Linked DNA regions of Homo sapiens: region 1 is reported to be linked to region 2. The links are microRNA targets in miRTarBase. Many come from high-throughput screens and were not tested one by one. Region 2 holds a microRNA gene; the other region holds the end of a gene's coding sequence.
The links. Region 2 holds the annotated microRNA hsa-miR-6790-3p (CGACCUCGGCGACCCCUCACU, at 1,409-1,429, shown strand). A microRNA usually pairs through its seed, bases 2 to 8, with sites in the 3' UTR of a target mRNA and lowers its output. Matches are read on the target gene's strand: a 7mer-m8 pairs with bases 2 to 8, a 7mer-A1 pairs with bases 2 to 7 and ends in A, and an 8mer does both.

Region 1: miRTarBase lists NXPE1 as a target of hsa-miR-6790-3p. Seed matches in the 3' UTR shown: 7mer-A1 at 1,403-1,409 and 8mer at 2,669-2,676.

The regions. Positions count from the first base shown.
Region 1 is chr11:114,519,179-114,522,706 of GRCh38, reverse strand. It overlaps NXPE1 (neurexophilin and PC-esterase domain family member 1), which reads left to right. Exons shown (of 9, transcript NM_001395504.1): 9 at 204-3,528. The coding sequence ends at 739. It also overlaps a transcript of NXPE2 not described here. Among named protein-coding and RNA genes, the nearest start is that of NXPE1, 39 kb to the left of the region's middle.
Region 2 is chr19:6,391,120-6,394,353 of GRCh38, reverse strand. It overlaps MIR6790 (microRNA 6790), which reads left to right and starts at 1,371; the gene lies at 1,371-1,433. It overlaps GTF2F1 (general transcription factor IIF subunit 1), which reads left to right and starts at 1,190. Exons shown (of 13, transcript NM_002096.3): 1 at 1,190-1,370; 2 at 1,451-1,497; 3 at 2,380-2,452. The coding sequence starts at 1,359. It also overlaps the pseudogene LOC390877.

The DNA.
Region 1 (3,528 bases), not on the chromosome of region 2:
CTTCTTTTAAAATTCCAGTGAAAACTTTACATTTTTGATTGACATTTTACATGTATGAACTGGGGGTACTGTACCCTAGAGAGTAGAAAGGCTCCAGTGAGCAATTATCTAGGTAGGGTGGGTATTTTAAATGATAGGACATTCTTTTTCATGAATATTAACCATTATCTTCTATTTAAAACATCTATTTGTTTTTTTATCAGCACTGAAGTTTTTTGATCTTCATGAAACTGGAATCTTTAAGAAACATTTGCTTCTGGATGCAGAAAGACACACTCAGATTCAATGGAAAAAACATAGCTATCCCTTCGTCACTTTCCAGCTCTACTCTCTGATAGATCATGATTATATCCCTCGGGAAATTGACCGGCTATCAGGTGACAAAAACACAGCCATCGTCATCACCTTTGGCCAGCACTTTAGACCATTTCCCATTGACATTTTTATTCGCAGGGCCATCGGTGTTCAAAAGGCTATTGAAAGACTGTTCCTAAGAAGCCCAGCCACTAAAGTGATTATTAAGACAGAAAACATCAGGGAGATGCACATAGAGACAGAGAGGTTTGGAGACTTCCATGGTTATATTCACTATCTTATCATGAAGGATATTTTCAAAGACCTCAACGTGGGCATCATTGATGCCTGGGACATGACCATTGCATATGGCACTGACACTATCCACCCACCTGATCATGTGATTGGAAATCAGATTAACATGTTCTTAAACTACATTTGCTAAGGGATAAATACTATACAAAATCACTAGGAACCAATCTCTGCACATAATCCCACATGTATTGTAAAGTAAGTTTTACTCATTTTAGGAACTAAGGAAAATAAATTTAAAAGAATCTGTTTGGGGAGGAAGGCTATGTAAGGACAATGACAACTGATAAGGGATGCAAAACCAAGAGAATCATTCATGAAGAATGACTATACCATGCCTGGTTCTGATGCTCGTTTAAAATATTAAAAAAGTTTTTTAAAAGCCATGTTATTAAGCTGATTTGAAAATATCTGTACAAATTCATGATGCTTTCTATTTCCAATATAGATATTTCCTAGCTCTGTCTATTGAAAAGGCCTAGGAGCAATGATAACCCATTAGCAATAATCACTCCGAGCACCCTAACTGTGATGTCTAAGAACCCTTCCTCAATAAAAGAAAAGAGGCATCCTTGAAGGGAAGGCTGATTCCAGGACTGGAACAGAAAATATGTATACCATGAGCCTGGACATCTTGTTATGCCAGAAAGCAAATAATCAAAGACAAATGGAATCATATCATGGAACAGAGGAGGTAACCCAAAGGAGTCTCTTCATTGGCCATAGATAGATTAGTTTTAGCATCAAAAAGACTAATGACTGCAGTTAATTGAAATACATAATATATAAAATCCATGAGGTCATAGCAATACAAAAAGAGACATGCAAGAATAAAAGCAAAATCTCTCATGTGTCGTAAGTGGAGTTGGGTAAACCCTTATTTTGAAAATTGGCAACAAAAGGGAAATATATGAACATTTATCCTCTTTCCTGTTAAAGAGAAAATCAATAACCCTAATAGATAAAGGAAATTTCTTCTTTTTGGAAGAATTACAGCTAATGAATACAGAAAGAACGACAGAATTAGGAAAGCACCATTTAAAAACTTCTACTCAAATAAGTAAATAAGGCAGAGATCATCAGTGAATGAACTTTTTTAAAAGGTTTGATTGGAACTTTACTATGGATATAGCAGGCTGTCACTTCTGAATCCACTGCTCAAACTTAGCTTTATTAATTTTAAAGCTTTGTAACAGCAGGACAACTGGTCATTATGTCCTACATGATTTGATGCAATGTAAAGTATACAACACCACCTATGAAGGAGCGAGATCTGTAAGAAAGATGCTCAATTTGGAAGTCATCATTATATATAGGTGCCTGCTAAAAATGAGGAGATGGTAATATTTTCACACACAAAGGGAACTCTCATACACTCTTGGTGGGAATGTAAGTTGGTACAGCCATTATGGAAAACAGTATGGCAGTTCCCCTAAAAACAGAACTACCATATGACCCAGCAATCCCTCTGCTGAGTATCCCAAAGGAAATGAAATCAGCACTTCATAGAGATATCTGCATTCTCATGCTCACTGCAGCATTATTCACAATAGCCAAGACAGAGAAACAACATAAGTGCCCATCAATAGATGAACAGATAAATAATTTGCAGTATATATGTACAATGGAATATCATTCAGCCTTACAAAAGGAGATGCTGCTATATTTGCAATAACATGGGTGAACCTGGAGGACGTTACGCTAAGTAAAATAACAATATTGAAGGAAAGAAATAATACTGAAAGAAAAATATTGCTTGATCTCACTTATATATGGAACTTAAAAACTACACATAGAAACAGGGTAGAATGGTAGTTATCCAGGCTGGGAGGAAGAGAAAACAGGGAGGTGTAGGTCAAAGGGTACAAACTTGCAGTTCTATTGGATGAATGTCTAGAGAGCTAATGTACAGCATGAGAACTATAGTTAATATTGTATATGGAAAATTTGCTGAGAGACTAGATTTTAGGTATTCTACCTCAATTAAAAAGGTAATTGTGGCCAGGCACGGTGGCTTACGCCTGTAATGCCAGCACTTTGGGAGGCCTAAGCGGGAGGATCACGAGGTCAGGAGATCGAGACCACAGTGAAACCCCGTCTTTACTAAAAATACAAAAAAAAATTAGCGGGCAAGCTCGCCGAGATGGCACCACTGCACTCCAGACTGGGCTACAGAGCGAGACTCTGTCTCAAAAAACAAACAAACAAACAAAAGGTAATTGTGCAGTGAGGAATATGTTAATATACTGACTACAGTAATCATTTCACTATGCATATGTATATCAAAACATCACACTGTATACCTTAAATGTATGCAATAAAAAATAAAAGATACATACACAAAATTCTTTAAATGTCCCACACACAAGACAAATACGTGTTCAAATACATCAGTCTCTGAAGCCTCTGCACCACTCTACACGCTGCTCCTTCTGACTAGAATGCCCTCCTGCCCCTCCTTCCACCTGTCAAACTCCCAATCACCCTTTAAAACCAGATTGAATTATTTTCTTCTGTGAAGCTTTCCCTGACACCCCGGGAAAGAATAATGTTTCCACAGTGTTTTGTCATTTACTCCATAAAAGAAACAAAAACATGTATTTTTAAAAGTATCTGTTATCTCTAATAGCTTGTAAACATCTTGAGGAAAGAGACTAAGTTTTGCTTCTTTTTCCCCCAAAGAGAACTTTATTAAAACATTTACCATCTCTTTAGAGAGAGGTTTTACCATCTCTTTAGAAAGCTCCAGAATCTACAACCAGGAATAAGTGTTAATGGGATAGAACCAATGAGAGAACAGCATATGATAGTGAAATGTACTTTATTATTAATACGAATTCAGTGGGCTCACAGAATGAACCTTTTTGCCAAACGGGGGGAAAGCATTTTCTGTAAAGTATCTTTAGAAAAATATGTATAATT
Region 2 (3,234 bases):
AGTGGTGGATGAGAAATAAATGAAAACAGACACATCGACGGTGTCTGTAGTTCATGGCCCAACTTTTGTGTCTTGCCCGCCTTCCCTTTGCTTAGCCAACTCCTATGCATCCCTCAGTGCCCAACTGAAACCTCCCCTCTTCTCTGAGCCCTCAGAGCCCCGCTGTGCTTCTCCTGCTCCTTCCTGGGTTGTAGATTCCCATGCTGTGACTCTGTCTCTTCCACGACACTGTAACCCTCGAGAGGACACTGTAATCCTCCGTGGGGAGCTGGTTTGACAGATTCACCTTGCGGGGCCCCGAACCCAGGAGGTGCTGGAGTATTTGCGAAGTGGAGCAATGAATGGTTGCGCCGTGAGCATGCGCAGTTGTGTTACTGCCATGATTCGGGGGATGTGTGCATGCCTGGAACGGGGTAGGGGATCCTGCATCTCCCTCCTGTTCTCGGCAGCTTCCTTCCCTTCCCCCCAGGAAGCCAGCCAGCCGCCCCCGCGACGTTACCCTTCTCCTGGGGCCTCAGAGCCCTGCCCATCTCGGGCAGCTTGGACTTGCAAAGACCCATCCGGCCAGCAGCTCTTGGGGTGGTCGCGCCCCGACCCCGCCCAGGCTCTGACCCCTCCTGGCTCGGCTCAACGTCACAAGGGTCCCCGCCCCGGTCATTTTGCGGGAATGACGGGGTCCACCCCTTCGGGGTAGGGGGAGGAAATGAACCCCAAACAGACCCATGGGGAGCCAAGCGGCGGTTCGACCCGACCCGAGTAGGCCTCGGTTGCTATGGTGACGCGGCCTTCTGGGCCCCCCAGGTCCAGAGCGGCAAGGCGCATGCGCAAAGTGCCTGGGAGCCCGCAAGGGGGATTCGTCTCCCTCTTCCCACCCAGGATGCCCCACGGTCCTTGGGTGCTGACGTCACGAGAGAGGGCGGTCCCCCATTTGATGAAGTTAACCGCGTTATATACAAGAGCGCCAGCGACAGAGGCCCGTTAGTTTATCTCAGACTCGGCCTAGGTTTGCTGAGTCTAAAAAGGGACCGCGGTGGACCTTTTGAGGTGACCATAGCCGCCGAGGAGCATAAGTGACTGCGCACTGAGGTGGCCACAGTCGCTAAGAAGGTTGCCATCGCGACGCGGCTGCTCGAGGGTTTCGCTTCCGGGTTAGGCGGCCGCAGAAGCGTAGACCGAGTAGCTTGAGCGCCTCTTCCGGTTACCTTTTCCCAGCGCCAGAGGCGCCTAGGGTTGGGGTCCTCGCTCAGGCACAGAGACCCGACACCGAGCGGCGGCTTCCCCGGGATCGAGGGACGCGCACGCCAGAGGAGACGAAAGGAACCCGGGTCGGACCAGATCGGAACCACTGACCATTGCCCATGGCGGCCCTAGTGAGTGTGGATTTGGCGGGGTTCGGGGGTTCCGACGGCGACCTCGGCGACCCCTCACTCACCGCTTCCTCTTTCCGCAGGGCCCTAGCAGCCAGAATGTCACTGAATACGTCGTTCGAGTTCCTAAGTAAGTCCCCAGCCCCATCTCCCACTCCTCTCCACCCCCCAAAAATGAAAACCTTCACGATCTTCTTAGCCAGCCATTTCTGGCCCTGTCTGTGGTTCTCCCTCCAGACCGGGAGAGACTTGGAGGGCAGGGCTGGGATTAAGCTGAGGCTTCTCTGGGGACAACACTGCTTTTTTGAACGAATGAATGAATGAGTGCATTAATACACGGTGATCCAGCCCCCTGGCCTAACCTTCGAGGAGTATATGGTCCCATGATGCCCAGGCCAGCTGTAAGGACATATTCCTCGTCCTGTTTCAAAGTGGTCAGGCTGTCTTTCCTTTCCAGGCCTTTGTACATCCTGTTCCTCTGCCATGAGTGCCTCCCCTCAACCCCTAAACTGTGACTCTGCTGGGTGAATTCTTGATGATTCTGCAAAACTCAACTCCAGTATCTTCCTCCTCCAGGAAATACTCCCTGCCTGTCCTCCCTCCTCCCCAAGGCTGAGTTCACAATAATCTCCACATCTTGGGTTCCCCCAAATCTTCGTCCCTCCATCTGCTCTTCTTCTGCCTGGGGTCAGGAGAGGATGGGTCTAGCTTCTCTGGCAGACTGGGAATCCTTGGAGTCTTCCGTATCCAGTGTTGCCAGGCAAAACAGGCTGAATGAAGCTGGGTGGGTTTGTTGAGTGAATTGAATTGAATTAATGATTCAATTGAATGGAATGATTGAATTGAATTAATGGTTCAATTGAATTGAGTGATTGAATTAAAGTAATGATTTGATTGAATTAACGATCCAGTTGGGTGGTTGATTGAATTAATGGTTCAATAGCATTGACTGATTAAATTAATGATTGAATTGCTGTATTGGATTGACACTACCTCTTCTCATCCACTCCAGGAATACAACCAAAAAATATAACATCATGGCTTTTAATGCAGCCGACAAAGTCAACTTTGCTACGTGGAATCAGGTAAGTCTCTGAGTCCTGGGGGTCAGGGGCTGGGGTGGTGAGAGAACTTGACCCTGACCTTGGTGGTTGTGATAGTTGCTTAACTGTCATAGTCACTAAGTCTTAATTTTCTCACTTTTCTCCAAGTGAAGAAAAGATAGATGACAAAGGGTTGGGTGCAGTAGTTCACACCTGTAATCCCAGCACTTTGGGAGGCTGAGGCAGGAAGCTTGCTTAAGGCCAGGAGTTTGAGACCAGCCTGGGCAATACAATAGCAAGACCCCAACTCTACAAAAAAATTAAAAAGTTAGTTGGGGCTGATAGCGTGGGTCTGTAGTCCTACATAGGAGGCTGAGGTAGGAGGATCGCTTGAGCCCAGGGGTTCAAGGCTGCAGTGAGCTATGATTGTACGACTGCACTCCAGCCTGGATAACAGAGCAAGACCCTGCCTCAAAAAAAAAAAAAAAAAAAAAAAAAAAAAAACGGAAATGGCAAAGGCCCAGGCCTAGCTCCTGGGTGTCCCTGTAAGTTAGGTTTGGTAGGCCCACCAGAGGCCTCTCCTTAAAGGAGAACATTTAGAAGCTGTGCCCACTGTTGGACATTTTTGGCCATGGTTTATCTGGGCAAGGGAGGGGACTGGGCTGGGGGCTTTCCCAGAGCCCCTGCCATCAGAGGCTCTAGAAAGGACTTTGGGAGCCATTAAAGCATCTTCAATTGGGAAGTTGTAGTGTGTGTGATCTGGCTGCTATGGGGAGACAAACTGTGGGTTTGAGGGCAAATAAACGGAGACCAAGGTAGAAGCA